Regions from separate parts of the Homo sapiens genome. Here regions 2, 3, 4, 5 and 6 are each reported to be linked to region 1. The links are microRNA targets in miRTarBase. Many come from high-throughput screens and were not tested one by one. Region 1 holds a microRNA gene; each other region holds the end of a gene's coding sequence.
The links. Region 1 holds the annotated microRNA hsa-miR-3130-3p (GCUGCACCGGAGACUGGGUAA, at 2,204-2,224, shown strand). A microRNA usually pairs through its seed, bases 2 to 8, with sites in the 3' UTR of a target mRNA and lowers its output. Matches are read on the target gene's strand: a 7mer-m8 pairs with bases 2 to 8, a 7mer-A1 pairs with bases 2 to 7 and ends in A, and an 8mer does both.

Region 1 (5,072 bases):
TCACTTGGAATGTTCTTTCCTGCTTATCTTTCCATGGTAAAACCCCATCTCTCCATCTTTTAAGATCAGCTCAGATACCAACCCCTCCAGGCAACACTGCCTGATATCCCCTGACCCTCCTCTTCACCAGGCTGGCATCCTGATATATCCTTCCTCTATTTCCAAATATCCTAGATGATATGGTTTGGCTGTGTCCCCACCCAAATCTCATTTTGAATTGTAGCTCCTATAATTCCCTTGTGTTGTGAGGGACCCAGTGGTAGATAGCTGAATCATGGGGGTGGTTTCCCCCATACTCTTCTTGTGGTAGTCAATAAGTCTCACGAGATCTGATAGTTTTATAAGGGGAAACCCCTTTTGCTTGGCTGTCTCTCTTGTCTGCTGCCCTGTGAGATGTGCCTTTCATCTTCTGCCATGATTGTGGGGCCTCCCCAGCCATGTGGAACTGTGAGTCCATTAAACCTCTTTCTTTTGTAAAGTGCCCAGTCTCGGGTATGTCTTTATCAGCTGCGTGAAAACAGACTAATATGCTAGATCACTCGAATTTTCATGCTATATTTAACTGCCAATTTACATATCTACCTTACCCATTACACAGAATCCTCTGGCAAGAAGGACTGTCTTATTCATCTTTCTCCTAAGTGTCCAGGTGCTTGGCAAATGCTGACTAAACGAACAAATAAACTTTGATGAGGAAGACAGGAGGACGAGCTTGTCATTGGAAAACGATGAGTCAAGAAAAATAGCTGACTTCCAGAATTACTGAACTTGAGACACTTCTGGGATGTGCAGTGACCATATGCAACCCACAGAGACTCAGGTCTGGAGTTAAGGAGCACACTAATGACCACAGATGCAAATGTGGGATTATCCATAAGGTGGTAAATACAGATCAAGAAGAGAAGAAACCAAAGGACCAAAACAACAGAGCTTAAACGTTACATATTTGTTCCTTGGGTTCAAAGCCCAGCAAGATACTCTGGATTTAACACCCTCTCCCCGATGGGCCATCATAAATGAAATAATGATTAATGTATAGCATGTGGGTATACAATAAGCCAGAATTCCTACCACTCTCCTATCTAACCATCTCTTCTAGTCAACTCTCTTCCCAAATACTTTGAGTTATTCTGCTTCCAAAACCTTTGCTACTCCAGATAAGTTGCCATCTTCCTTTCTCCTTCCTCCATAAAGCACTTACTTGGTGCCTACCATGTACTGCCTTCCTCTGGATATACAACAGAGTTGTTCTCATAAATGGTCTAGGAAGAGCAGGGAATACAAACTTCTTTTTTTATAGCCTTCAAAATACCAAATCCAGGCAATTGTACATTCATGGGCATTCAGGAAATGGTGACTAATTAATCTTGCTATATCTGCCATATTGCCCCTACTTCTCCTTTGGAGAAATGTTGAGGTGGGAGGCTTAGAATTAGGTAAGGGTTTCTCAATCTCAGCACTACTAACATCCGGGGCTGGATAATTCCTTATTGTGAGGGGCTATCTTCTGCATAGTAGGATGTTAGCGGCACCCCTGGCCTCTGTCCACTAGAGGCCAGTAGCACAGACCTCCCTCCTGTTGTGGCAACTAAAAACCATCTCCATACCTTGCCAAATGTCCCCTGGGAGGCAAAATCATCCCTGTTTGAAAACCACTAGGTTAAATGAAAGCAGAATAGACAGACAAAAAGACAACATTCATGATTCTCCTCCTGTACTAATTCTACTACTGCCATTTTATTAAATGTCCTCCCAGCCTTTGTTACCTTTGTTATCCCCCCTCTATTTTCAATGTAACAATTTTGTTGGAACAAGTTATCTCTCAGGTTGCCTGGAGTCACCTGAAAAACTCTTACCCGCCCAGTACTTACTCTCTTAATCCCTCTGGGGCTGTTTCTGGAGTTTTAATTACCACTTAGCTTGATATTATTTGTCTAGAAAGTACAAGGCATCAATGGGAGCCAGCCTCAGAAGAAAATGAAGCCAGGGGAGTAAAGGAAGATTGAATTTGGGAGATATTTTTCGACCTTTATTAAATGTCTACTCTTTGGCAGGTCCTGTACTAAGTTCAGAAAAACAGGCAGCTGGGTCGGACTCCGGAGAGCTTACCAACTGAGGAGCAGAGACAGACTTACTGACACAACAAATGATGTGACACAACTTGTCATGTCTTACCCAGTCTCCGGTGCAGCCTGTTGTCAAGGCTGCACCGGAGACTGGGTAAGACATGACAAGCACAGGGACTCTGACGGTGACAATTAGGGAAGACACAGGAAATGCAGTATGAGCTGAGTCTGTCCATTCAGTGGACAGTACAGTGGGAAGCTGCTTTTTAGTTGGCCTGACACCACTTAATTGATTAACTGCCCCTAAGGGATGGGCATTTGACTCAAACTCAGTCAATCAGATGTTCTCTTTCAGAAATCTAAATCTGGAGGGAAAACTAAAAGGAAAGCAAGCAGCTGGAGTCAAGTCATTTGATGGCAAACAGATGGCCTGTGCATCTTGCCACTGAGACCTTCACAACTGCCCTAGTTTGTTCCCCCAAGGCCTCTGTGACCTACACTCTAATTTTTTTCAAATCTAAAAATTACTATGTGCTGGGCATTGTCATAAGAACTTGACATAGATTAACTCATTTAATTCTAATAACAACCCAATGAGATTAGACATAGCTCATCTCCATTTTAATAAGTGAATAAACTGAGGCACAGATAAGTAATTTGCCAAAAGTCAAGCAGCTAACAAATGGCAATGCTGAAACTCAAACCTAAGCAAGCTAGCTCTAGAGTCCATGCTTTTAATCACTGTTTTAACAAATGACATTTTATATGCTTTTCTGATTTTTAATGAACCCTGACTGATCCAAAGAGTAAGAAAAGATGTTCTGGGTAGAAAGCAGAGGTATGAAAGAAGCTGGCACATTTGAGGAATTACTGTATTTAATAGTAGGAATGCATGGCTGTGGTTAAAATGAAAAGAATAGAAAGCAGTAGCTTGAGACCAAATGAATAGTTAAGGTCAAAACTGAACTAGAAGAAGGTCCAGTTCTCACAGCTTCTCAGAAACACTGATTTAGCAAGGACATATAGACAAAAATACCTTTATGAAAAGTCCAGAAACCAATTAAGATATTGTCGTACTCCAGACAAGAACAAAACCAAGAAGAGTTGCACTGAAACAGGCAAGAAGAACATTTTACCCAGGTCAGCCCCTCCCCAAAGCCGGCACAGCTCAGCACCAAGGAGATCACCTTGGCCTAGGACTTCTCCCTTGGAGGGAGAGAGTAGAGTGTGCAACCAACATCCGGCTTTTCACTGTGCTGCCCTAGGGGCTGGATTTCTGTCTAAACTCACGTGGAATACTAACAAAACCAGCAGGGTTCAGATGCCTGAGAGCAGTTAAGAACAAAGGAAAAGGGGTGGACAGCTTCCTGCACTCAGCACAGCTCTGAGAGATTGAGAGAAGGTACGCAACCCGAGGATTCAGCCTCAGGAGGAAATGAGAGGAGTGGAGCATGTCTTCAACATCCTAGCCTTTTGGTGAGCTGTCCAAGGAGCTGGTTTCTATCTCACCTCACAAGGAGAGCGGACGAAACCAGCATAGTTTGAATGCTCAGGAGCAGTTAAGTAGGAAAAAAAGGGGTCAGTGGCTTGCAGCAGACAGCACAACTCAAGGCTTCTCTACAGCGAAGGAGAGAAAGGAGAGGAGCATCTATGTCCCCGACTGTAGTACAGCAGTCAGACACCAGAGGGAGCAAGACATTCCCTGATACTGGAAAAAAAAAAAAAAAAAGAAATTAAAAAAAAGAAACCAGTAAATCCCTCTACTTAGAAATCCATAAACACATTCAGGCCAGGCATGGTGGCTCATGCCTGTAATCCCAGCACTTTGGGAGGCCAAGGTGGGTGGATCACCTGAGGTCAGGAGTTGTAGACCAGCCTGGCCAAAATGGTGAAACCCCGTCTCTACCAAAACTACAAAAATTAGCCAGGCGTGGTGGCAGGTGCCTGTAATCCCACCTACTTGGGAGGCTGAGACAGGAGAATCGCTTGAACCTGGGAGGCAGAGGTTGCAGTAAGCCGAGATCGTGCCACTGCACTCCAGCCTGGGCAACAAAGATCAAAACTCTGTCTCAAAAAAAAAAAAAAAAAAAAAAAAAAATCATAGAAAAAGTTTAAGAGGCCCCCAGAATCTCTGGCTAAGCTGATTAATAAGAGTCTTTCCCTGTCAAAGCCAGTCTGTAAAAACAGGGAGAGGAGACTGTTTCTTTAATTGTGCAGACACCAATGCAAAGCTACAAGGAAGAAAGAGCATCAGGGAAATGTAACACAATCAAAGTACCAAAATAAATGTCCAGTAATCAACATTAAAGAGATGAAGATCTATGAACTGCCCAACAAAGAACTAAAAATAATTGTCTTATAAGAACACAGAAAAGTAAATGAAATTAGGAAAATGATATATGAGCAAAATAAGAGTATCAACAAAGAATTGATAAACTATAGAAAGAACTAAACAGCAATTCTGGAGCTAAAGAATATAATAACTGAACTGAAAAATTGACTAGAGGGCCATACCAGCATATTTCAGCAAGCAAAAGAGAATCGGAGAATTTGAAGCAGGTCATGTGAAATTACCCAGTCCAAAAAGAAAAAAGAACAAAGAAAGAAGAAGAGTTAAGAAAGCCTAAGACACTTACAGTACACCAACAAGCAAACCAATGTGTGCATTATGGGTGTCTCGGGAGAAGAAAAAAAGGAGCTGAAAGCTTATTTAAGGAAATAGTGGCTGAAAACTTCACAAATCTAGAAAGAGTAATGGACATCCAGATTCATAAAGCTCAAAGGACCCCAAATAAGATTAATCCAAAGAAACATACATTAAGATACATTGTAATCAAACTGTCAAAATTCAAAAACAAAAAGAACTTTAAAAGCAACTCGTATCTCCCACAAGGATGAAAAGCAACTTTTCATGTACAAGGGAGCCCCCATCAGACTAGCAGTGAACTTCTTAGCAGAAACTTTGCAGGCCAGAGAAGGGACTGGGATAATGTATTCAAAGTGCTG
Region 2 (5,072 bases), not on the chromosome of region 1:
AAGAGCCACAATGAGAAGAAACCCTTCGCATGCAGCGAATGTGGAAAAGGCTTTTATGAGAGTACAGCCCTCATTCAACACTTCATTATCCATACTGGGGAGAGGCCCTTTAAGTGCCTTGAGTGTGGGAAGGCCTTCAACTGCAGGTCACACCTCAAGCAGCATGAGCGGATTCACACTGGTGAGAAGCCCTTTGTGTGCAGTCAATGTGGAAAGGCCTTCACTCACTATTCCACCTATGTCCTGCATGAAAGAGCCCACACTGGAGAAAAGCCTTTTGAGTGCAAAGAATGTGGGAAAGCCTTTAGCATTCGAAAAGACCTCATTCGACACTTCAACATCCACACTGGAGAGAAGCCCTATGAGTGTTTACAGTGTGGAAAGGCTTTTACCCGCATGTCAGGGCTCACAAGGCACCAGTGGATTCATACTGGAGAGAAGCCGTATGTATGCATCCAATGTGGGAAAGCCTTTTGTCGGACCACAAACCTGATTCGACACTTTAGCATCCACACTGGAGAGAAGCCCTATGAATGCGTGGAGTGCGGGAAGGCCTTCAACCGCAGGTCACCCCTCACAAGGCACCAGCGGATTCACACTGCAGAGAAGTCCCACGAACCCATCCAGAGTGGGAACGTTTCTTGTGAGAGCACAGATCTCATTCAACACTCCATCATCCACACTGAGAGTAGCCCAGTGAGTGCAGTGAATATGGAAACGCCTTCAATTGCCGCTCATTCCTCCTCACTCGACATCAACGGATTCATAGTGGAAGAAACCCTACCATTGTAACAGATGTGGAAAGACTTTTTACGTACACTTCAGTCAACATCCAAGAATTCCTATTAGCGAAATAGTTTTTTAATATAACCACTGAAGAAAATCTGTGGTGAGAGGAAACATCTTACCATCTGGTCATTCATACTGAAGAGAAACTCCATAAGTATCATCTCTGTGGGAAAACCTGTTTTAGATCATCATTTGTCATCTAAACAATTATGTTAGAAATTGACACAGCCAAGAGTCTTATTCTACATCTGATAATTCACCCATGAAAGAGACCCAGTGGTTACTGTGCACTTAGGAAAACCTTCAGCCACATCTTTCTTATTAGTTTACAGTGAAATGTTATCTCAGGGACATTCAAACAAAGGAGGAGGAGTCATAGGGAAGAGAAAGAAATGGAAGCACAGCTTCTTTCAGACTTCCCTGACAAGCCCATGGCAATTTGTCATCCCCTCCTTATTTTATTTGGGAGAGGGAAATGTTTCAGAAACAAAAGGGCCTCATCCCCTTTATTTTCCCTGTGTATACATTCACTGCTGTCCAGTGCTGTAGACAAACGGTTTGTTTGAAAACATTTTGTGAAAGCCTGCTTTGTTCCACAGCATTGTCTCCACTCTTGAGGAGCAGAAGCATATATCTTTATGAGAAAGATGGAGGCTTGAGTTATGAAATACTTTTACATTTAAGGAGATAAAGGATGTACATATGAATGGGCACATTTTACTGCACACTTCAGACGCTTTGACTTTTTTAAAAAAATTGTTTCTCCGTGTGTCTTTAACCACCCAGTACCATACTTTTTTCTTGATCTGGATCTACTTGTCAATTTCTTCTTTATTTTTCTGTAGGATGGAGATGATATTGTAGCTGTTTGTACATAATGTAATCCAGGGAGTCCTAATTCTTCCCTCTGATTGTGGTTTCTCAGCTTTTTTACTGCTCTTTAGAGAGAGTAAATAGTTCAAAATTCACCTCAACAATTTTCTAGAGGTCAATTTGGAACCAAAAATGAAATAAGACATGTAGCTAAAGTAAGTTAAAAGATTATGATAAACTCAGAAAATAAACACAGAGAAGGAATCTCATTTTTCAGTCTTACAGAAGATTGTGTGAAGGCTGACTATACATAAAGTGACTGGAATTTTAACAGGTGAACCTGCATATGTATATGCAGGTAGTTGTCACCATGGATTGAGTCCAGTCGTAGTAATTAATATGTTTAATCAGAATATTTTGGAATTTCTCTTTTGGTATTCTTTTTGTTTCTTTTATTGTTTTTAATTGACAATGTTTATGGGGTTTGGTGTGATATTTCAATACATGTGTGCTAAGAGTAATGATCAAATCAGGGTAATTAGCATATCCATCTCAATCATTTATCATTTCTTTGTGTTTAGAAACATTCACAGTCTGCTTTTCTAGCTATTTGAAAATATAAAATGTATTATTGCCAATTGTACTCATTCTGCAGTGCCACAGAACACTACAACTTATTCAAATGGAATCTTACTTGCTGTAATTTTGTATTTGTTAACCAATCTCTATCTGCCTCTCTGCTGTCCTTCCCAGCCTCTGGTTACCACCATTCTCAACCTTTTATGCTTGCATATGAGTAGAAACATGGAGTATTTCTCTTTCTGTGTCTAGCTTATTTCACTTAATGTCTTTCAAGCTCATTCATGTTGCTGTGAATGACAGGTTTATTTTTCATGGCTGAGTAGTATTCCATTGTGTATATATGCCATGTTTTCTTTCTTCATTCATCTGATAATGGACACTTAGACTGATTTCTTAGCTATTATGAATAGTGCTTCAATAAACATAGGAGTGTAGATCTCTCTTTGACGTATAGATATATTTGTTTTTGCATATATGCCCAGTAGTGGTATAGATCATTACCAGTGGATCATATGGTAGTTGTATTTTTAACTTTTGTTTATTTTTCATTTTTTAAAATGGGGTCTTGCTGTGTTATTCAGGCTGGTCTCAGACTCCTGGGCTCAAGCAGTCCTGCACCTCAGCCTCCTGAGTAGCTGGGACTACAGGCACACACCACCGTGCCTGGCTATAGTTTTAGATTTTTGAGGAACATTCATACTGTTTTCCATATGGCTATACTAATTAGCATTCCTACCAGCCATATATAAGAGTTCCCCCTTTTCCATGTTCTCAGCAGCATTTTTTATTTTTTATCTTTGGTAATAGCCATCCTAACTGAGGTGAAATTATATCTCATTGTGGTTTTGATTTGCATTTCCCTGATTAGTGATGTTGAGCATTTTTTCATATACTTGGCCATTTGTATGTCTCCTTTTGAGGGATGTCTATTCACCTTATTTACCCATTTTAAAATCAGATTTTTTATTTTTATTTTTTTTGCTATTGAGTTCCTTTTATATTCTGGATATTAATCCCTTTCAGATGAATAGTTTGCAAATATTTTATCCCACTCTACTAGTTGTCTCTTCATTCTGTTGTTTCCTTTGCTGTGCAGAAGTTTTTTAGTTTAATATAATCCCTTTGTTTATTTGTGCTTTTGTTACCTTGATTTTCAGGTATTCATAAAATCCTTGCCCAGACCAATATCCAGAAGCATTTCCCCTATGTTTTCTTCTGTAGTTTCATAGTTTTTGCTCTTACATTTAAGCTTTCAAACCATTTTGAGTTGATTATCCTGAGAGCATAGATTCAAATTGCCCTAAAAATACATTCCCAATTTTTGTTTTTGCTTTTTAATTATTTTTTAGAGACATAGTCTCACCACATTGCCCAGCTTGGTCCTGAACTCCTGGACTCAAGTGAGCCACAACTCAGCCTTCTGAGTAGCTAAGATTACAGGTATGAGCCAGCATACTTGGTGTTTTGAGTTGATTTTTGTGTATGGTGAGAGATGAGTCTACTTTCATTCTTCTGCATATGAATATCCAGTGTCCCAGCACCATTTATTGAAGAGACTGTCCTTTTCCCAGTGAATGTTCTTTGTGCCTTTGTTAGAAATCAGTTGGCTGTAAATGGGATTTATTCCTGGGCTCTCTGTTTTGTTCCATTGGTTTGTGTGGTTTTTAAAAAATACCTGAACCATGCTGTTTTGGTTACCATCACTTTGTAGTATATTTCAAGGTCAGGTAGTGTGATGACTCCCATTTTGTTCTTTTTGCTTAGGATTGCTTTGGATATTCAGTATCTTCTGTGATATCATGAATTTTAGGATTACTATTTCTATTTCTGTGAAAAATGTCATTGGTATTTTGTTAAGAGTGCATTGAATCTGTAGATCACTTGAGGTAGTATGTTCATTTTTTTTCATAAGCTATCTCTTACAGGAAAGTATGTTCATTTTTATAGTAACCATTCTAATCCATGACCATGGGATGTTTTTCCTTTTTTATGTGTGTCCTCTTTGATTTACTTCATCAGTGTTATATAGTTTTCCATGTATTCTTATTTTATTTTTGTTGAAGTATTGTAAATGGGATGGCTTTCTTGATTTCTTTTTCAGCTAATTCATTGTTGGTGTATAGAAATGCTGCTGATTTTTGCATGTTGATTTTATATCCTGCAAGTTCAGTGAATTTATCAGTCCTAAGATTTTTTTGGTGCCACTTTTGGAGTTTAGGGTTTTCTATATATTTGATCCTGTCATGTGCATACAGGGATAATTTGACTTCATGCTTCCTGATCTGCATGCCCTTTATTTCTTTGTCTTGCCTGATTACTCTGTCTCAGACCTTTTGTACTTTGTTAAAAGGTGTGAAAGTGGGCATACTTGTTTTGTTTCAGATTATAGAGAGAAAGCTTTCAGCACTTTCCCATTATGCATGATGTTAGCTGTGGGTATGTTACTTATTACCTTTATTATGTTGAGGTACGTTCTTTCTATTATTATTATAATTTTTTTTAATTTTTTTTTTGAGATGGAGTCTCGCTCTGTCGCCCAGCTGGAGTGCAGTGGCATGATCTCAGCTCACTGCAAGCTCCGCCTTCTGGGTTCACACCATTCTCCTGCCTCAGCCTCCCAAGTAGCTGGAACTACAGGTGCCCACCACCATGCCTGGCTAATTTTTTGTATTTTTAGTAGAGATGGGTTTTCACCATGTTAGCCAGGATGATCTTGATCTCCTGACCTCGTGATCCGCCCGCCTCGGCCTCCCAAAGTGCTGGGATTACAGGTGTAAGCCACCGCGGCCGGCCCATTCTTTCTATTATTATGTGTAATTTGTTAAGAGTTTTCATCATGAGGGGATATTGAATGTTACCAGAGGCTTTTTCTCCACCTATGGAGATAA
Region 3 (5,072 bases), not on the chromosome of region 1:
TGTTTTATAAAATGCATATGAATATGGATATATTCAATATGAATTACTAAAGGGGAGAACACTGTGGATAGTAGTGAAGCATACCCATTTGCAAAATGCTACAAAATCTCTAGATTGAGACATCCAGAAAAAAAAAATCACCTTAATTGACTGATTGCAATACAATGGAATGAAGTTAGGAGAGAGACTATATTTCTCTCCATGTGGTTTGGTAATAGATATCTGCCCTTCACAGTGCTCGCACTTTATACTCTCCTTAAATACTAATTTTCTTTCCTTTTAGAAACAGTTGATATGTTACTAATATTTGCATAGAATGTTAACGTGATCCAAATCCTTTCTAATCTTTCTTGAGATGTTACTTCTTTTGATGCTTTACAATGTTGTAAGATAGAAAGGAATTAAAATGCCTTCCTTTTGCATCCAGGTGACAAACTAACAAAATAAATATAAAATATCATCTCCAATTGGTACCAATAAACATTGTCACTACTCTTAAAAAATATTTTACAGGACCACTTATCACATTCATGTATTTATTCAACAAGTATTTGATATGACCCTCCTGTACATTAGGCACTGTGCTTATCCTTTAGATTCTGATGTTTGTTATATTTAACAGCTCGATTGTAATTGTTAAGAAGTTTCTCAAAATGTTTCTCAAAATGAGATCAGAGTTCAAGGGAACTCAAAGATATGATCAAACACAGTCATAAGGTAAGGACCTGAAATTTGTGGTAACTTTAATTCACGCAAAAAAAAAATTCTAGGATATTACCTTAAGACTCATGGAATCTAGTTTAAAAATAGGCTGACAAAAAAAATATCAGAGGCATAGTTTCCTATTCTTTTAATATTTAACCTCCAATTGGAGGTAAGAATTTAAAGCCTCCGCAAATAATTCCTAAATATTCTGTTGCTTTATACATCAAATGCGCTGAGCTTTCTAAGCCCCTCAAAATAAGAAACATTTCTGCACAATCTAAGATTATCAGGAGTTTTACAGTAAATATAACAATTTTAAGCATGTATTTGTTTCCCACTAAGATGATTTTTTTTTTCAGTTTCTACTTCATATTGTCAGATATACAGCTGTCATAATATATATGACTGTCAGGCTCTCATGTCTTTCTTGTTCAGGGTGTAATACTCTGGATGTGGACAATTCAGTATATATTCTTATTAGTAAGGTCTATAATGATTAACATTTATTTATTCTTACTGATGTCTACAATAATTAATATTTAAATATTTAGAGTATTGAAGGTAATAGCTTTTCGATATTTTGAAATAAAACATTTTAAATGGTCTGTTCCCTTTTTTGTGTCCACAATTTAATTCTAGGCATAATTATTGGTTTGTATAATCAACAGCAAACCAATTTTGTTGAATCAATATATCTTTTTCATGAGTTTCTTACAAAGAATTGCAACCCACAGGATTTATTAAAGGAGTGGCTGTGAACCATACACTTTCTTGAGGGTTGTATTTCACTTAAATGTAGTGATAGCCCATTTCCTTCTGCTGAACTCAACTCCTAAAATATTTAAACCAGAACGAATGCTAACAAGTTTGATGTTTTATTTATTGTATACCTTCAAAAGTCGAAGTTCTTCTACATGAGGTGTACCATTCTATAGGCCCTAAAAATACCAATAAGACATTCACATTTGTAAAAATTGAGACATAATTCTATAATAAGTTATGAATGCGATTGAAAAGAAAGTGGGATAAAGAAAGATAGGATCCTTAAATCCAAATCTTAACTATTGTCACTAGCTGTGGGGTGTGTGTGTGTGTGTGTGTATGTGTGTGTGAATGTGTGTCTTGAATAAATATCTCTGGATCTAGTTAACTCATAAGTAGAAAGAAAAGCAATTATAATTTCTATATTATAGCAATTATAAACAACAAAATTATAATTCCTTCCAGCTCTAAAACTCACACATCAATGGACCCACAGCTAAAGGGTTCCATTGAGTCATTTAATTCTTCCACTTCAAATTTAGGAAACAGTCTTCTGGGACTTAGTAATGGGGTTTCAAAGCACCTGCTAGATACTTAGTAGTACTGCCTCTACTTGCGTCATATTATCAGTGTGTGATTATAGTCATAGTCCAACAAAGAGCCTACATTTGTAGTCAACAATAGAGACACTGCCTTTAGGTCTTTCAGTTCTTTCAAATCATGAACATTCACTAGAGCCAAGGCAGGTTGAAATAATATTGAATGCTTTTAATATTGAATGTTTTTCTGCCTTCAAAAAAAACAGGTGGGCCAGACACAGTGGCTCATACCTGTAATCCCAGCACTTTGGGAGGCTGAGGCAAGTGGATCATTTGAGGTCAGGAGTTCAAGACCAGCCTGGCCAACACAGTGAAACCCATCTCTACTAAAAATACAAAAACTAGCCAGGCATAGTGGTACACGCCTGTAATCCTAGCTACTCGGGAGGCTGATACAGGAGAATCACTTGAACCTGGGAGGCCGAGGTTGCAGTGAGCCGAGACTGCACCACTGCACTCCGGCCTGGGCGACAGAGCAAGACTCTATCACAAAAATAATAATAATAAAAAAAAGCAGGTGCTTTCTAAACTTGTTAGCAGTGTATCCTCTTTAGATCTCTATGCTTTTTATAGACCAAAAAATTTGACAAAGTAAATGTAAATGTATGAATTTGACTGTCTTACCAATTAATTAAATATGGATGGAGATCTTTACTTATTGAGGAGGACATCCACATAAAAATATTATTTCTTAATGCATTGTGGTTAGAAGAGATAATACGGAGAGAATAATATGTTGGGTCAAAAGAGTTGACAAAGTTTGCAGCTCAGAAACATGTCAAACAGCTAAGCAATTGGGGAAATTTTCTACTTTTTTTCCCCATTAAATCAGCATTGACCCATACAAACGTCATTCGGAGTAGCACATGCATATAAACAGTCTCAGGCTGAATTGAAAGGAAGCTTTTATATGTCTATCCACTTAATTGTAAGCTCATTTTAGGCAGTGATAGTACCTTGTTCATCTTATCTCTGTGGGTGTTAAGGCAGTGCCTGACACTGCATTCAATCTTGGCTTAAGAAATATACCTGAGAATCAAACAATCCTCTATTCATTACAGGAATATTCCTCTGCTCAAATCTTTCTGGTGCTGGGGTGAGCTTATTCTCTCACAAGATAGTCTGGATAGCTGGATCTATGCCCTTTTTACTGAATTCTTTTTGAATTTTGCTGATGTCAATTTGTAATACGAATAAGTCACAAATAGACCCAAATGGATGTCTCAGAACATTCTAATTTTTGGGTGGATTATTGGCCTGAAAGGAATAAAGGCACTAAAGATCATTTTGAGGAATGTTTTCCTTGAAGAATCCTTAATGGCCCATCTTTTTTCACCTACGATCTCTGCTTATATCCAGCTCTCCTCTAGCCTTATGGAGGAGAATGCTATAGGCAGCTGCAAGTTCAGGAATATACTCTTCAAAATTTTCATGTAATGGTAGGTTTATTTGGTTCTATAAAGCCCTGAACATCATGGTCATATGTGCTATGTATGAATAATTACCAAAATGGGATATAAAAGTCATCTCCAATTAGTACTTCTAAAGTAGAACTGTCACTTCCTTGAAACAATCATTTTTCTGGGAATTCAATTGCATTTATTTATTCATCCAACAAATGTGCATTGAGATCTTACTGTGTGCTAACACTGTGTGTTTTCTATATATCCCCACTTTATTATATTTAACGTCTTATATTTAATACCTTGATGATAATTTTATTTAGGCTCTCTTAAATGATAGAACTCAAATCAAATGATAGGGCTCATCATTATGAGCCAAATCTTATATCCATATGGTAAAATAAGACCATTTTAAATATTAGGGCTTCAGAAAAAAATCTTAAATTGATACATAATTAAACATTGTTCATAAATGACACCATTTATAAATATATTTATAGGTATCATTTTTCTTTGTTATTTGAGGAAATTATTTGTTTTATTATGACAATGAGTGTCATCAGTAGCAGAAAGAACTGTCTTAGATTTTCTAAAGTATTATTGGGATTACTTCCCAGGTGCTGAAAATCACAACAAATTGGATATTTAAAAATACTTGAATAATTTAATTTAAGACCATGAGAATAAGTAGCTGCAAATCAGCTTAATGAAAATAAATGAGAAGTCTAATAGCTTCCCGAATAGAACAGTTCTGCTTCATATCTTTCTTATTCACTCCATGAATAATTTCACCTTCACAAATGTGATAAACAGGTAAAAAAAATAGATCAAATAGAGACAGTTATACACTTCATTCATCTTCGGAGTCAAAGAGGTTAGAATTCAATCGCAACATGTTCTTCCTCTGTTATAGTATGCAAAGTTGGAACTAGACATTGTAATACTTAGTGAAAATTTTTCATACTTTAAGATGTGCATCTTCATTTCCCAAATAGATTAAACAGCTGATCAGTGTGGAAACAATAATCAAACCACAAGCTTACATTATGGACAACTACAAAAATGTGAAAAAACAATGTTTACAAATGATAATGAAGAATAAATTACTCTCCAGTGCACATAATTAGGTATATACAGGATAATTTAAAACCGAATGGAATGATTGCTCATGCTGAGCTTTTAAAAATCTCCACCAAAATATACACGTTACCCTAGAGAGGGTGATAAAAATAAATTGTGACACAAAAGTAGTATGTTGCATCTCTTCTTATCCTCAATACTTGGATGATATCTCATCAAAATATTTATCAAGTGTGCAAGTGATGAAAAATTTTAATTCCAAAACCATTTCTCTAAATTACCAACAGACTTATATTCTTGATGCCTTTTCACATGATCGCAAGCCAAACATGCATGTGATTCCCAAAATCGTGGAAGATTTACAGTGAAATCCTTCCTCCAGTTAAAGTAACTAAGGTATAACTTATTGTTTTTGTCGACTTCCTTCAGATACTTTGCTAGCTCACTGGGAGAGTTATAATCTTCCACATGAATGAATGAATCTGCTGGAATATAATTCTCATAGTTTTCCCTAGATGGTCCC
Region 4 (5,072 bases), not on the chromosome of region 1:
AGGCCTGGTGCCCCTTGCACCCCTCTCCCCAGCATCTTTCTCCATTGTCCCCTCATTGGAAAAGGAGGCTATGCCTGGATCTGTCTGTCCATTCTGTTATCTGTCTCCCATGGGTCTTTCCTCTGGTTCGTTCGCTTCCTTTCTCTCTCTCCTGCTCTGCTTTGTGCTTCTCTGAACGGCCGCTTCTCACACCCTCATCATGTGTGTCCTACCCACCCTGTAAGGAAGGCAGGGCAGGCACTGGCTCCATTTTAGAGACAGAGGGGAGGTGCTGCATGCAGAGTGACCCAGTAAATTCCTGGTCAGGCTAGGGTGAGGACCACGCAGCCTGCTCACGCATCTTCCGTCCCTGTCTCCCCGCTGCTCAGCACCTCTGCTCTCTGGCCCTGCTCCTGATGGGCCAGTGCTTCTCAAGCTCCTTCTCTCTCTTTCAGCCTAAGCCCAGCAGTGGAGGCCGGCGACGAGGGGGCCAGCGCCACAAGGTGAAGTCCCAGGGGGCCTGTGTGACTCCTGCCAGCGGCTGCTGAACCTTCCCCTGGCCCACCCTCACCACCCAAGGGGTCATCATCTCTGGCCACCACTCCACCAGATGGGCAGAGCAGCTATGACCGCCACCCAGCCCTCCCGCTCAGGCCACAGCCGGAGCCTCCGCATTGCCCCCACCCCCATTTTCCAGGGGGGTTGTAATTTATAAGCTGACGAAGGTAGCCAGACTTCCGGAGGACTGACCATCTCTCACTGTCCTCCCCACCTTCTTCCTCACTCACACATTTTTTGTACATCTGGGCCCTTAGTTTTTATTCTGTTTATTATATGTCTCTGTCTCTCTCTATTGTGTGTGTGTGTGTGTGTGTGTGTGTGTGTGTGTGTGTGGTGCAGGAGTGCCACCCCCAGGGCCCTGTCAACCTCTCTTTTCTCCTCCATGGCTGTCTGCCTGCGTATCTGTCTCTGAGAATCCTCGGGGCGGTCAGGGGATGTCAGGAGGGGAAGGAGCCGCCCTCCCTATCTTGCTGCTCCTCTTGGCACTCAGGGGCACCTTCCATGGAGCCAGACCGGGTGGAGGGGCTTCTGGGATTTGGTGTCTGCTGCTGCCAGAGCAGGAACCCCCAGTCTAGGACTTGGGCATTTTAACAGGGAGAAAGTAGTGGCTTCCCTTTTCTCTCTCTCCTCCTTTTTCCCTTTAAGCCCACAGATTCAGGTCATGCCAAAAGCTCTCTGGTTGTAACCTGGAGACATGTGGAGGGGAATGGCGATGGGATTATAGGACTCTCCCCATCTCGGGCCCTGACCCTGACCCTTGCCACCAACCCAAAGACAGCTGGTGGGTTTCCCCTTGGAGACAATCCTGCGTTTGCCTGGGCCGGCCCTGGCTGCCCTCAGCTTTCGCTGATCTGCCCGGCCTGGAGCCTCCCATCACCCCGCTTCTTGTTGGGCCTCAGGCACTGGTTACCAGAAGGGGGTCTGGGTCTGCTCAGGATCATGTTTTGTAGCACCTCCTGTTGGAGGGGTGGAGGGATGTTCCCCTGAGCCAGGCTGAGACTAGAACCCCATCTTCCCTGAGCCAGGCTGAGACTAGAACCCCATCTTCCCCACCACGCCACCCCTGTGGCTGCTACAGGAGCACAGTAGTGAAGGCCTGAGCTCCAGGTTTGAAAGACCCAACTGGAGCGTGGGGCGGGCAGGCAGGGGTTAGTGAAAGGACACTTCCAGGGTTAGGACAGAGCATTTAGCCTTCTGGAAGAACCCCTGCCTGGGGTGGGACTGTGCAGGCCAGAGAAGGTGGCATGGGCCTGAACCCACCTGGACTGACTTCTGCACTGAAGCCACAGATGGAGGGTAGGCTGGTGGGTGGGGGTGGTTCGTTCTCTAGCCGGGGCAGACACCCAGCTGGCTGGGTCCTTCCTCAGCCTTGCCTCCTCCTGTCCCCAACCCTTTCCTTTCCTCCTGCTTGCGGACTGCTGGTCCCCTCTCCTTCCCTCCTTCCAGCTGTTTCTAGTTACCACCTACCCCTGGCCGTGGACTGATCAGACCAGCATTCAAAATAAAAGTTTGTTCCAAGTTGACAGTGTGGTGCTCCCTGCCCAGCCCCTCCAGGTGGAGGTGCTGCCACGGGAACGCAGTTGCTCTGCCTGCCCTGGGGCCCCTGGCGACAGCTGGGAGCAGGGCAGTGCTGTGAGGAGCCCAGCTTTCCCAGTCAGGCAGGCATGGCTTCCGTGTTCAGGCTCCCTCACCAGCTGGTGACACGGGACAAGCTTACAAACCTTCTCTGAACCTCAGTTTTCTCATTTACAAGAGGCAAAGCCATCCATCACCTTGTGTGGATTCAGAGAATGTGAGGCCCTGGGGTGTCCTACACAAGGGAAAGGCTTGCTCAGTGAGCGGTCTGCACACCGTTAGCCACCCTGCCACCTCTGTGCCCTGGGCAGGCTCCAAAGGAAAGCTCTGGCTGGGACTGCCAGGAGTCTCACACGCTCCTGTTGACATTCCCAGCAGCCGCCCCTGAGGTCGATGTTTGTTCTGTTTTTCTTTTTCTTTTTTGAGACGGAGTCTCGCTGTGTTGCCAGGCTGGAGTGCAGTGGTGTGATCTCTGCTCACTGCAACCTCCGCCTGCCAGTTTCAAGTGATTCTCTGCCTCAGCCTTCTGAGTAGCTGGGACTACAGGTGCACGCCACCACGCCCAGCTAACTTTTTGTATTTTAGTAGAGACAGGGTTTCGCCATGTCGGCCAGGGTGGTCTTGATCTCCTGACCTCATGATCCACCCGCCTCAGCCTCCCAAAGTGCTGGGATTACAGGTATGAGCCACCGCACCGGGCCTGTTCTATTTTTCTAGTTAAGGGAACTGAAGCTCAGAGAGGTGTCACCAGCAGGTGTTCATTCCCATGCCAGCCTTGCCCCCCGGCTTTTCCCAGGCAGGCTCCTGCGTGCCCACTGGCTCCAGCCTGGTCCTCTGTCTCTTGGCTGCTTCACTCCTGCTCTTTGTCCCGACTCTGGCCCTGCTTACAGGGGCCACTACCTGCTGGTGCCTCCATAACAAGCGTCTGGCGTTGAGACCCCTGGCATGGCAGGGGCTTTGGGGTCTGGTTTCCACAAGGCTTAGCCATGGCAGAACCTCGTTTTATTTTAACTCTTTGCCCCTACAAACAAACAGCAGTACTTGCCAGAACCATTCTTGGGATTCAGGAGCTCGGGCGACTGCCTTGGCCTCTGGCCGCACCCAGGAGGGTGGGGTTGGATCTGTGTAGTTGCCAGGCCCACACCTGCCAGCAGGGGGCTGACTGGATCCATGCTTTACTGTGTTTAATGGGGGTAACAGGGGTCCCTACAGCCCTCCCAGCTAAACATTTGGAACAAAACACCAGCCCTTTTGTAGTGGATGCAGAATAAAATTGTTAATCCAATCACCTCCAATGGCAAGGCCTGACCCTTCTGTGTGTGCAGCAGGTGTTTGTGGCGTCTTTCCCAGGAGTAAGGCCTGTGATGGTGGGATGGGGATGGCCAGACCCCTGACTCCACAGTCAGGACTGTTCTGGCTTATCAGCCACCCTGGCACAGAGAAGGTCACAGGGATGAATATGCCACGCACAGGGGCAGCACAGGTTTAGTTGGGTTGGGGGAAGTACCATGGAGCCGGCAGTGTGAGGGCTGTGCTGTGAGGGCCCAGTAGGATTTGAATGTACAGATGGGCAGAGGGCATGTGCCCAGCCCAGGCTCTGGACTCTTGCCACAGTGTGTGGCAACTTCCAGGGGCTTGTTTATTGGTGCTGCGTGGGGATGTCTCCTTTGTTTAGATGGCGTCAGAGGCAGAGCAGGTGTCAGTGAAGGGGAGTGAGCACAGGACCAGCTGTCTCCCAAGAGGCTGAGGAGCTGGCCCAAGGCTTTGGGGGCTGGATTTGTGCCTCACCCAGCTCCTGCCTTGTGGCTGTCTCCACAGTCCTCCCTACTGACTGGCTTTCTGCCTTTGTTTTCTCAGCCATGATGAGGAGCAGCCCTGGGCCAGGTGCCACGGTCAGTATGAGAGGCTCCAGGATCAGGCTAGAGAACCACGCGAACCAGGTCTGGGGAGCTATCTGTGGGAAAGGTCAGGGCCTGTTTTTCTCCTAAGCTGCTGGCTGTTCAAGGGACCTACCTCCTTGTCCCTTCCCAGTCACAGGTCCAAGGGGCAAATAGCGAATTCCCATGGAGGAGAATCACTGCACTCCAAGTGGACGTGGCTGGTAGGTAAGTGTAACTTTTTCTGCTGCTGTTCAGTGGTACTGAGAGACAGGAAAGCCCCACTGCTCCCGCCCCACCCTTTGTGATGGGTTATCAATGACAGCTAATAAAGCCACCTCACTGCTTCCTCATGCCAGCCCTTGACCCACAAACACTGGAGGAGACCTGCCTCAGGTCCCATCCCCCACCACAACTGGGCTTTAGCTGAAAGTTGTGGGTTTCTGAACTTCAGGAATAAGTCTTTGGGGACATTCGTTTGGCCAAGAATTCATTCCCTCATCTGCCCAAGAGCAGCTGCCCTAGGTGATAGGCAAAAGCCACATGAAAGCCACATCCCACAGCTCTTGGGCGTCATTTATTTTTTGCATAGGCATAAATTAGGATCTGGAGATAAAAAACTTAAGAACCAATAGTGCAGCATTTGTGACAGGAGAGCGCAAAACAAACCCTGGCTGCCTCGGGATGGAGCGGGGCGGCCTCACCACCACTGCATCCAGCCTCATGCTCCAGAGCGGATTTGAGGCTCAGTGCTGCAGTGAAGGCCTGCCCGCCTTCTTGCCCCTTCCCCGCAGCCAGACCACCAGACACAGCCGGAACCAGTGCCCCAGGCCCCTCTCCACGGCCAGGAACAAGAAACTGAGTATCACCCAGTGCCCCACAGAACGGGGCTAGGAATCAAGCCCTTAGCTTTTCAGTTAGAAAAACAGACCTTGAAAAATATATACATAATACAGTGGGGCCTGCTGGCTCTAAAAGTCCCCTCCTCCCCCTTCCCTATCCAGGGTAACTTCTGCCAGCCTCTTCCCCCAGCCCCCACCAACTGCCCCACAGAGAACAAACCAGAAGGGCGACTACCTG
Region 5 (5,072 bases), not on the chromosome of region 1:
CTGTCCCCACAGTACGTGTCAGAAGTGGTGATTGGAGCCCCGTACGCGGTCACAGCAGAGCTCCTAAGTCACTTCAAGGTGAGGCTCCGCATGGGCTCACCTCGTTCCCTCTGTTCACCTCTGTTCCTGCATGGGCTGGGAATGCAGGCTGGCTGTGGGCTCCTAGGCGGGGCCCAGGAGGTACCTGGGCTGAGGAAAGGGCAGGGTCAGCTCTCCCAACCCCCGGGGCCTGTGCTGGGCTGTGGGTGGCGACGGCCGCTGCCTCCCCGGGGAGGGCTCCTGACCCCACTCCTTCTCCAGGTGGACCTGGTGTGTCACGGCAAGACAGAAATTATCCCTGACAGGGATGGCTCCGACCCATACCAGGTGGGTCATGCTGGCCCTTGCTGGGCACAGGGGTTGCCATTGGCACCTCCCAGCCATTTAATGACTCACTGTGCCTGCCTGGGAAACGGGCATGGTGGCGCAGCTGCTCCGACTGCACCACTCCCATGGGACCCTGGGCGCTGGTCTCCCTCTGGGGCAGGGCATCAGATGGGTCTTGGGGAGGTCAGCAGGGACCTTCATCCCGCTCCTCCTCTCTGGACCCCCAGGAGCCCAAGAGAAGGGGCATCTTCCGTCAGATTGACAGTGGCAGCAACCTCACCACAGACCTCATCGTCCAGCGGATCATCACCAACAGGTGCAGTTGGGTGGGGGCACCTCGGAGCCGCCTCATGGGCGCTCTCCGCTAGACTTACCGTGCCCTCCCCCTCGGAGCCGCCTCATGGGCGCTCTCTGCTAGACTTACCCTGCCCTCTCAGGTTGGAGTATGAGGCGCGAAACCAGAAGAAGGAAGCCAAGGAGCTGGCCTTCCTGGAGGCTGCCAGGCAGCAGGCGGCACAGCCCCTGGGGGAGCGCGATGGTGACTTCTAACCTGGCAGAGGCCCTGGCCGGCCCTCCCCCTGCTCTGCTTCTGCGCCTTCTGCGTTTGGACATAGGACTCTGCAGGGCCGCCCTCTCTAACTGGCCTGGCTCTGGAAGGGCTGGTGAGGACTCTGCCTCCTTGCCTGCCTACAAGGTGCCTGGTTTGCAGCAGGCTCTCCGCTCTTTCCAGCAAAGCTGCTCAGAGAGGGTGTCCAGCACAGTGGAGAGGCCGGAAGTGAGACGGGCAGACGGCACCTGCAGCCTGAAACGCACCGCTCCTGCGTGCGCCCCCACCTGGTCCCCGGATGCCCCCACCACCTGGACAGAGGCCACACTGACTGCCCACCCAGCTGTGGCGGGAGGTGCAGAGCAGAGGGCTTTAGGGAGCAGTGACTGCGGTCACCCCTTTAGTTCTCTGGGTGTAGACCACACCACCTCCCACTGGGCACCCCCCAACACGGTGTCCTGCCACCCAGCGCCTGGCTCCAGGAAAACACGCTTGCCTTCCTTCCCGGCAGCTTCGCCACTCTCCTTATGGACTCTGTTCTGTTTGTACATGGCTGACGGAAATCTCTTTGGTACAACCGAATAAAGCCTGGTGGCAGTGCTGCGCGGGGCTCCCAGCCCTGCTGGGAAGGACCAGGGAACCACTCAGCAAGGAGACCCTCTTGGCCCTGCCCCCACCATGCACCCAGCAGCCGGGAGTGCAGCGGGCAGCCTGGCAGTGAGTGAAACCCAGGCCTCCAGCCCTCCAAAGCCTGGGGCCACCCCCTGTAGCAGGCGATGCTAGAATAAGGAGGAGAGCCAGAGCTGAGGCTCCTTGCCCCTTGGCCCCTCCAGGGGCCATGGGATCTCTGTCTCCCACACCCCTGTCACGGCCCGCCTGGAGCAGCCCAGAGGCCGAAGAGGTTCTTACTGCAGCCTCCGGGAGGTGTCTAGGGAGGCCATAGATTGCCTGGTCTCGCCGCATTCAAAATGAGGCTTATGATCAGTACTTTTTTCAGCCCCACATTCCTCTCCAGAATGGCCTCTGCCCTACAGCACCTGGCCCATGTGGCACCCCATGGGCCTGTCCTCTGCTGTTGTGAGGTCGACCTCACGACCCAGCACAGGAGCTGGAGGCGAGGTGCACGCGAGGCTCTCCACAGCCCAGGAAGGCAGCCTGTCACCCTGCTCTCCGAGCCAGGGGCCAAGGTGTGGGGGGCACAGGCCATCCTCATCCTGCCAGGCCCCCGCTTTCAGGAGTGGGGTGGTGCCAATGCTCCCACTCAGAACCCTGGACTGCGGGGTCCCCTGAGCAGAGGGACCAGCCAGTTCCCCATAGACAGATTGGTGCTGGACAGGGGCTGCCTGGGCCCCAGGCTTGGGGAGGGTAGAAAGGCCCTGCAGTGCTGCTGCCTGGGCCCGGAGGTGGGCCTGGCCCCGTAGCAGCATTGGAGGCCAGAGCCCAAGCCAGTTCCGGAGTCACACCCAACGGCGGAGGGAGAACCTACCCATCTCCCACCTTCAGCTCTGGGGAGGCATGCTCTGGGCCTCTGGAGCCAGGGCTCAGGCCCCCAACTCTCCTCCTTGCCCCTGCACCCTCGGACTTGGCCTGGCCAGAAGGGATGGGGGCAAGAGGAAGGCAGCCAGGGGCTCCAGCCCATGCCCTCACAGATTTGGCTCTCGAGTTGGGGAGCGAAGGGCTGGGGGAGGACACTGGGAACCGGGCCAGCCGTGGCCCTGCACTTCCCCCAGGGAGCACCAAGGCTAGGCGCGGCTTCACCGCGGGGCTGGGTCGTGGCCAGCTTCGCCCCTGGGTCTGAAGACCTCTGGGCGGCCCAGGCCAACCTTGCCCTGCCGCCGCACACTCGGCTGCCTTCTCATACCCAGGCTTGGGGATTTCCAGGTCCCGTTCCCCTCGTGGCCTGGCTGCCAGTCCTCCAGCACCCCTCACTCCGAGGCCGCCTCATTTATTTATTCGTTTGCCATTAACTGCGGGGTGAGCGGAGTAGGGGAGACCTGGGGCGCCATCCCGCGCCGGAGGGGCCTGGGGTCACCGAGTGGGACGGTGGGGGCGGGGGGCCCCCAGCGGTGCCAGGAGAGGTCCGGGCTCAGGCGGCGAGGCAGTCGGCTGCGCGCAGGGACAGGAAGACGTTCGCCTTGCACTGGTAGGTCCCGCGGCCGTCGGGGAGCCGCTCGCACCTCTGCAGGTTTGGGGCGACGTCCTGGACGCACACAGCCTGGGGGGCAGGCAAGCAAAGGCTGAGGGGCCGCCGCACCCCCACCCACGTCCTGCCGCCGCCCCCCATCAGTCCCCGGCACGCCGGACTCACGAGGCTCCGCAGCCTGGGGTGCAGTTGCAGCTCCGGGGAGGCGCCGGCCCCGCCCGGGGGTTCCGCCCCTCTGTAGGGCTGGGAGCGCCGCGCGTACGGGGACCTGCGGAGGCCGGACAGCAGCCCCGCGGCGCGGCCCACCGAGTAGGAGCTGTGCCCCGCCGCTGGCTTGTACCACGCGAGGCCAGGCGGCGCCAGCAGCAGGCACAGCGCCAGGGCGGCGGCCGCCAGTGTCGCGGACCGGGCCATGGGGACGCCGGCTGACTGGTGGGCGGCGGCGTCCGGGCTCGGAGCAGCCACCGCCTGGGCCGCCTTATATCTGCGGCGAGGGCGGGCCGAGGCTGCGGAGGGCCGGGAGGGGCGGCGGGCGGGCTGGGGTGCAGCGGGCGCGCGCGGAGGAGCCGTCGCACCTCCGCATCCCAAAGGAACCAGCCGCGCGGGCGAGCGCTGGAGGCGCGCAAGGATCTGGCGCTTGGTGGGAGCCCAACGCCCCCTCAAGCTCCCCACCCATGCCGCTCGCGCCCTTCAGGCCCGGCTTGCGTGGGCCGCAGTGGCAGCAGGGGAGGGCCCACGGGCGCCCAGCCCTAGGAGTCGTCCCCCAGGCAATCCCCAGTACTCCTGATGCTGGAGAGCCAGCCACACTGCACAGTGCCCCGGGGGCGGTTTCTACCACCCTAAGGGGTATTCTTGGCTCCAGGCATCAGAGTCCATGTGGCTTGTGGGGCCCTCATTTCTTTCATGCCCACTGGGGAAGGTTCCACCAGCAGGGCTGTTACTGGCGGGGTCCTCTGGGAGGGGGGCAAGAAGGCCAGCCACACCAAGGCACTGGAGCTCCACGACTCCTGGCCTTCGATTGGAGGCCCCTCTCTGCCAGCTCTGCCCCTTGGGGGGCACCAGGCAGGACTGCCAGCCGCTCTCCTGGCAGGTGACATCAGCCTTCAAGCTCACTGTGCCCTCACCATTTCATGCTCCCCCAAGGTCCTGGTCATGTCTTCTCTTGGGTATCTTCCCAGGACAGGCACTGGCACTGGAGCCCTGGCACTTGTTTCTGGGTTCCATGCTTCCCAGGTGTGATGGTGAATGCTGAGTGTCAGCTTGACTGGATTGAAGGATGCAAAGTATTGTCACTGGGTGTGTCTGTGAGGGTGTTGCCAGAGGAGATTCCCATTTGAGTCAGTGGGCTGGGAGAGGCAGACCCACCCTCAATCCAGGTGGGCACCACCTAATCGGCTGCCAGCACAGCCAGGATACAAGCAGGCAGAGGAACGTGGAAAGACTAGACTGGCTGAATCTGGCCTCCATCTTTCTCCCATGCTGGATGCTTCCCGCCCTCGCACGTCGGCCTCCAGGTTCTTCAGCTTTTGGACTCTCGGACCTACACCAGTGGCTTGCCAGGGGCTCTGCAGCCTTTGGCCACAGGATGAAGGCTGCACTATCGGCTTCTCTACTTTTGTTTTGGGACTCAGACTGGCTTCCTTGCTCCTCACCTTGCACATGGCTTATTGTGGGACTTCACCTTGTGATCACGTGAGTCAATACTCCCAATAAACTCTTCATATATACTCTTCATATAGAGTCCTGTCTCTCTAGAGAACCCTGACACAGATTTCAGGTGAGGCCTGGTCTACTCCTCAGGTTGCTGTGAGGAAGGGTCAAGAGACACTGGGCACGGGTCACTGGCCCCATGAATGCCAAGGGCTCCCTAGGTTACTGGAGACACAGCCTGTGCTCTGTCCAGAAGCAGCCTGAGATGCCGGGGCTGCCACTCCCCCAGCGGCCCCTTCCCACCACGATTGTGGGGAGCAGAGGCACACAAAGGAGCCTCCCAGGGCCACCTTTCCCTAGGAAGGG
Region 6 (5,072 bases), not on the chromosome of region 1:
TGGCCTGCACCCCTCTTCCTGGCTTGGGCCCCATCTGTGCTCCTCGTCCCACGTTCCTGACCCGGTCCCCCAGCCCCCAGCCTCGGCCTGGGACAAGGCTGTGATCTCTGGCCAGGTCCTCTGACCCACGGGCCCATTGGGTGGGGCTGCCCACATCCCCTATCTCTGCCTCATGCTGCCACCCTGTCCCTGGCAGCAGACGCAGGCACCCCCGGGACAGCTGCAGGCGGCTTATGGGCACCCCTTTGAAGCCAGGAGGGCCGGGCGGGGGCGGGTCACACCCGGGGGTGTTGGAGCCTGGGCAGCACTTTCAAGTTAGCCGGGCTTTACAGGGAAGCAGCTTATCACCACCAGGACAGGGCCAGGGAGGACCATGGGCCTGGCCCCGTGCCCACACCCTGCCCCGCCATGCTGAGCCTCCCCCGGGCACCACCATCTCGTACCCAAAGGGCCTGGCCTGGGGGCCGCCCTGAGGACACAGCCAGGTCCCCTCCGTTGACTCCTGGGCTGCAACCCCCACCACTACAACCCACACCACCAGCAGCCCAGGACAGAGCCAGGGACGGGTGCCCAGCCCTGTTCCCGTCCCCACAGCACGAGCTGCCCCATGACCTTCCTGTGGTGGCCAAGGGCATGGGACCTGGTCTTGCCCACGTGAAGGGTGACAGTGGAAGAGCCAGGAAGCCCCAGGTGCAGCCCCTCCCTGGGGAGACGGCTGCCACTCTGGGCTCCTCCCTTCTCCCTGGGCCCCCTCGGTCGCCCTGCCCCTCAGATTCCATGCCCCAGCCCCACCCCTGCAAGGGCATTGCCCAGAAGCCCGCTGGCCCCCAAGGAGCCTCCCGACGCGTGTGTGTCGGTCTCTTCCTGGGCCTGGAGCCCCCATGGTGCAATGGTGTGCAGGTGACCCGGGCAGGACAGGTGAGACGGGGCCCACAGAGCGGCACCCCCACCTCCCACAAGCCCCACCCGGCCCTTCGAGCCTCCTGGCCAGTGAGCCTGGGGTGAAGGGCTCCCCATCTTTCAGGTGCTTGGCCGGAGCAGACCACTGTCAGAAGCGCAGTCCTGCCCTCTGTCCTGCTGGCCACACTCACGCCCTGGGCGCCTCTGCCCGCCTCCTGCCTCAAGTCCTCGAAGCACACGGGGCCTCTGTGCTCCCAGGCCTCCTGCACGTGGAGGGGAGGGGAACGCAATTTTGTTCTTGGGAGTGTGGACGTGCAGATGTGACGAGGGAGCCGGCGCAGGGCACAGACGCGTGCTGCCGTGACGGAGATGCGGGAAACGGCATCGGGATGGCCGTGTGGCTGGTGGGGGGACAGGAGCCACGGGGACAGGAGTCCACGGGGCAGGGCCAGGCAAGAGACAGCCAGGAACACAGGCCAGGCGTCCACAGGGCAGGGCCCCGGCAGGCTCAGGCTGGAGACCGCCGAACAGAGGGGCGTGGGGGCGGGAGCAAGGCTCTCGGGACTGGACGGCCAAGGGGGAAGGGTCTGGAAGTCGCAGGGGAGAAAGCAGGGGCTCCAGGCAGCCCCTGAGGAAGGCTAGGGAAGGACTGAGGGGTCTGAGCTCCAGGCTATTGGCCCGGGGGTGGCTGGGGCCCCATAGGCAGGAGATGGGTCTGTCCTGACTCCTTGGGGTCCCCCTGCCCAGCCTGGCATCCAACGTGGCCACAGCATGACAAAGTCCAGAGCCCAAGACCCAGAGGCTAGGCTGTGCCAGACCTGTCCGTTGAGGACCACACAGCACTAGTCAGCACCTCCTGTGGGCAGGCGCAAGATGGGCTGGACCACAAGTCAAGGGTGGCCCTGAGTGGGGGCCTGGACCTCACAGCAGGCAGGGTGCAGGCGTGGGGTCTGCGGTCCCAGTGTCTCCTTCAGAGGCTCTAGGGGACAGCCCTCTCGGACTGCCCATCCCTCCGCCCACTCCCTGGGGAGGGGCAGCCTGTCCTCTGCAACCCCATGACCCGCTGCCTGAGGCCTCCCTGCTGCCCAAGGTGGCCAGACGCCTGAGGTCTCCCTTCCACCCTCCCCTACTCCAGACTGAAACCCGACCAGGCGTCGGCCTGCAGCCTGTCCTGTCTGGGGAACATCTGTTTGGCTGCCAGCTGTGGGCCGCGTGGAGCCCCCACTGTCCCCCAGTCAGGGTGGCCAGGCCTCCCACAGCACCCATCAGCCACACGCAGCCCTTACCAGGGCCATGCCTGAAGCTGTCACCGTCCAAGGAGTCAGGACTTCCTCAGGGGAGAGAAGTAGGGTCTACCCTGGGGAGGACAGAGAACAAAAAGGGGACATCTTGAAAGCCATGGGGTCCCCAGAAGCTCCAGTTGGGGAGAGGTCCCTGACACCTCTCCCCAGAGCCCACCTGTCGTCTTTGAAGCCAGGCAGGGTGAGCTTCCTCCAGGGAAAAGCTCTCAGAACCAGAGCGGGTCAGGAAGCGCGCTGCACGCCAGCAGGACCAGGCTCCGGGGACGCAGTGGGCCTCACGCTTTGCTGAATGCACGAGGGGCCCCGGTGCCTTTTCTTACGAGGCTAACGGAACCCCCGGCAGGCAAGGGCCCCGGGTGGAGCTGGCAGCCCCACCCCTCCTGCTGACCGGGTAAGATGGGGTCGGCCACCGTCGCAGCACCGCAGGGTGGCTGGGAGGGCACTCGGACGGAGCCCTGAGGTCAGAGGTGACCTGAGCCTGGCCCCATCCCCAGCTCTGAGGCCAGTCTGCTGCCTCCTGTAGGGCCACCCACCAAAGCCTGAGGAGGGGCTGGGGAGTGGCCAGGCCCTGCACTGAGGGCCATAGGTGCCAGCCCCAGGACACAGAGAGGGCGCCGCTGGGACAGGGGTGCAGGACGCAGGCCTGGCCAGGCATGTGGGCAGTGCTCACGCCCAACACCACCGAAGCCCAGTATACCCAAACTCTCCCGCCGGGAGGTGCAGTTCTCAGCCCCTGTGGCTCTGGCCCAGCGAGGGGACTCCAAGAGGGTTAGGCTGCTGGTTCTGGAGACCAGGCCTGACACACAGGCACAAATGTGAGCACACACGAGCATGCACACGTGCATGTAGACATGGGCAGAAACACCAGCCTGGAGGGAAAGGATGCACTTTCATGTTTAACAAAATAAATTAAATATACGGGGCTTCAGCTCAAACTCTACATAAAATTACAGAGATCTGGGGCCACCACGACAGTGGGGTGGGGGGTGGTGTCTGGCCTGGACGGGGTGTGGTCATCAGCATGGCTGAAAGACCAGGCGGGTCCCGGGCCCCAGGAGAGACCACAGTCCCTGCAACCCAGTCTTCCTTCCATCATTATTAATATTATCTTCATTTCTTAAATATAAATACCAAGGCCCCTTCTCTGTGTCAGGGGGAGAATGCAGTGGGGATGAGCCACTAGCCATGGGCTCCAGCCTCTCAGGCTTGGGGCTGCTGTGCCCCCAACCCCAGCCCACAGCAGTAGGGGACTCCTGGGCACCCAAGGCAGGTGGCAAAAATAGCCGCCAAGGCCAGGGGACAGAGGCGGGGATGGAGGCGGGGACTGAGGCGGGGACAGAGGCGGGCAGAGTTGGGGGAGTGACGGTGGAGCAGGGAAAGTCCCTCATCAACTATGAGCCTCACGGCACACGTACTGCAGGCTTCACGGCACACCCTCCCAAAAGCACGTCAGTCTGCGTGTGTCCAGGCAGCATATCTGCACCTGTGTGTGCATGTGTGTCCGGAAGTGTGTGCCCAGGCAGCATATCTGCATGTGTGCGTGCGTGTGTATCCGGACAGCATATCTGCACGTGTGTGCATGTCCAGACAGCATATCTGTGCACATGTGTGTGTCCAGGCAATATCTGCACGTGTGTGAGTGTTGAGGCAGCATTATCTGTGTGTGTGTCCAGGCAGCATATCTGCGTGCGTGTGTGTGTCCGGACAGCATATCTGTGCATGCGTGTGTGTGTCCGGACAGCATGTCTGCGTGTGTGTGTGACTAGACAGCATATCTGCGTGTGTCCAGGCAGCATATCTGCGCCTGTGCACGTGTGTCTGGAAGTGTGTGTCCAGGCAGCATATCTGCATGTGTGTGCGTGTCCAGACAGCATATCTGTGCACACGTGTGTGTGTGTGTGTCCAGGCAATATCCGTGCATGTGTGTGTCAAGGCAGCATTATCTGTGTGTCCAGGCAGCATATCTGTGCACGTGTGTGTCCGGATACCATATCTGCACGTGTGTGCGTCCAGACAGCATATCCGTGTGTGTGTGTGTGTCCAGGCAGCACATCTGCGCATGGGTGTGCGTGTGTATGTTCAGGCAGCATGTCCTTGTATGTTCTGGCATGTCTCTGTGCGTGTGCGTGCATTTGGGCAGCTTATCTGTGTGCCCAGGCGGCATATCTGTGCATGTGCGTGTGTGCGTACGTGTGCCTTCAGGGAGCACGTGTGCGCGCATGTGTGTGCATACATGCATCCAGGCAGTGTGTGTGTCTGTGTGTGTGTGTCCAGGGGCTATGCCTCACACACAGACTGCCTGGGGTGCTGGCCATTCCTCCTCGCCATGGGTCCCCTGCCTTCGTCTGCAGCTCCGTCCTCCATCCTCCCAGTCTGCCTGTCTGGCCGGCCCCCCCGTGCCCACTGCAGATACGGTGCCGTCTAGCACTGATAGTGGATGTGCTGGTGGACCTTGCCCTCCACGTGTGAGTGTGTGTGAGAGTGTGTGTGTGTGTGTGTGTGGATGTCTGTGTAGAGTTTGGGGTACAACTTAGGGCCAGCAACTGGGCCTGGGCCCAGTAAGTGCTGGGGGGCTGCCGGAGACCCATGCTCCTCACACAGCCCCACACCAGGGCCAGCGCTGAGGGCGGCCAACGAGGGAAGGTCCTTGTCTCCGCTGCGGTCGCGGGCCGTCCCCGGCGGGCGGTGCCCAGGCAGGGGAGGGGCAGGCGCGGGGGTGCACGGCTTCTTCTGGGCCTGGCAAAGCCACAGGAGCAGGGTGCCCAGGATGAAGACAGCGCCGGCTGGGATGCCGATGACCACGGGCCACGGCAGGCTAGTGGCCGAGGACGAGGAGGCCACAGGTGGCCCTGGCGGTTTTGGGTCTGCAAG

Region 2: the mRNA of ZNF460 is a reported target of hsa-miR-3130-3p. The part of its 3' UTR that is shown has no 7-base or 8-base seed match.
Region 3: miRTarBase lists FUT9 as a target of hsa-miR-3130-3p. Seed matches in the 3' UTR shown: 7mer-m8 at 2,510-2,516 and 7mer-A1 at 973-979.
Region 4: miRTarBase lists GTPBP1 as a target of hsa-miR-3130-3p. Seed matches in the 3' UTR shown: 7mer-m8 at 873-879.
Region 5: miRTarBase lists PCYT2 as a target of hsa-miR-3130-3p. Seed matches in the 3' UTR shown: 8mer at 1,268-1,275, 7mer-m8 at 3,239-3,245 and 7mer-m8 at 3,598-3,604.
Region 6: the mRNA of FGFRL1 is a reported target of hsa-miR-3130-3p. Seed matches in the 3' UTR shown: 7mer-A1 at 4,194-4,200, 7mer-A1 at 3,826-3,832, 7mer-A1 at 3,766-3,772 and 8mer at 3,678-3,685.

Annotation. Positions count from the first base shown.
Region 1 is chr2:206,780,397-206,785,468 of GRCh38, reverse strand. It overlaps MIR3130-1 (microRNA 3130-1), which reads left to right and starts at 2,161; the gene lies at 2,161-2,235. The region is part of intron 7 of FASTKD2 (FAST kinase domains 2); the gene reads right to left. It overlaps MIR3130-2 (microRNA 3130-2), which reads right to left and starts at 2,235; the gene lies at 2,161-2,235.
Region 2 is chr19:57,291,439-57,296,510 of GRCh38, forward strand. ZNF460 (zinc finger protein 460) reads left to right here. Exons shown (of 3, transcript NM_006635.4): 3 at 1-2,631. The coding sequence ends at 792. Among named protein-coding and RNA genes, the nearest start is that of ZNF460, 13 kb to the left of the region's middle.
Region 3 is chr6:96,203,965-96,209,036 of GRCh38, reverse strand. FUT9 (fucosyltransferase 9) reads right to left here. Exons shown (of 3, transcript NM_006581.4): 3 at 1-5,072. The coding sequence ends at 4,802. All of the region lies in intron 2 of UFL1-AS1 (UFL1 antisense RNA 1), which reads left to right. Among named protein-coding and RNA genes, the nearest start is that of FUT9, 190 kb to the right of the region's middle.
Region 4 is chr22:38,730,178-38,735,249 of GRCh38, forward strand. GTPBP1 (GTP binding protein 1) reads left to right here. Exons shown (of 12, transcript NM_004286.5): 12 at 435-3,410. The coding sequence ends at 527. It overlaps SUN2 (Sad1 and UNC84 domain containing 2), which reads right to left. Exons shown (of 18, transcript NM_015374.3): 18 at 4,557-5,072. Among named protein-coding and RNA genes, the nearest start is that of SUN2, 23 kb to the right of the region's middle. RefSeq lists an enhancer at 1,970-2,019.
Region 5 is chr17:81,900,676-81,905,747 of GRCh38, reverse strand. It overlaps PCYT2 (phosphate cytidylyltransferase 2, ethanolamine), which reads left to right. Exons shown (of 13, transcript NM_002861.5): 10 at 13-78; 11 at 301-366; 12 at 594-682; 13 at 804-4,790. The coding sequence ends at 915. NPB (neuropeptide B) reads right to left here and starts at 3,510. Exons shown (of 2, transcript NM_148896.5): 1 at 3,222-3,510; 2 at 2,843-3,128. The coding sequence starts at 3,470. The coding sequence ends at 3,000. RefSeq lists silencers at 3,033-3,392, 3,483-3,582, 3,803-3,852.
Region 6 is chr4:1,024,898-1,029,969 of GRCh38, reverse strand. It overlaps FGFRL1 (fibroblast growth factor receptor like 1), which reads right to left. Exons shown (of 7, transcript NM_001004356.3): 7 at 3,072-5,065. The coding sequence ends at 4,623. Among named protein-coding and RNA genes, the nearest start is that of FGFRL1, 16 kb to the right of the region's middle. RefSeq lists enhancers at 3,224-3,723, 3,724-4,225.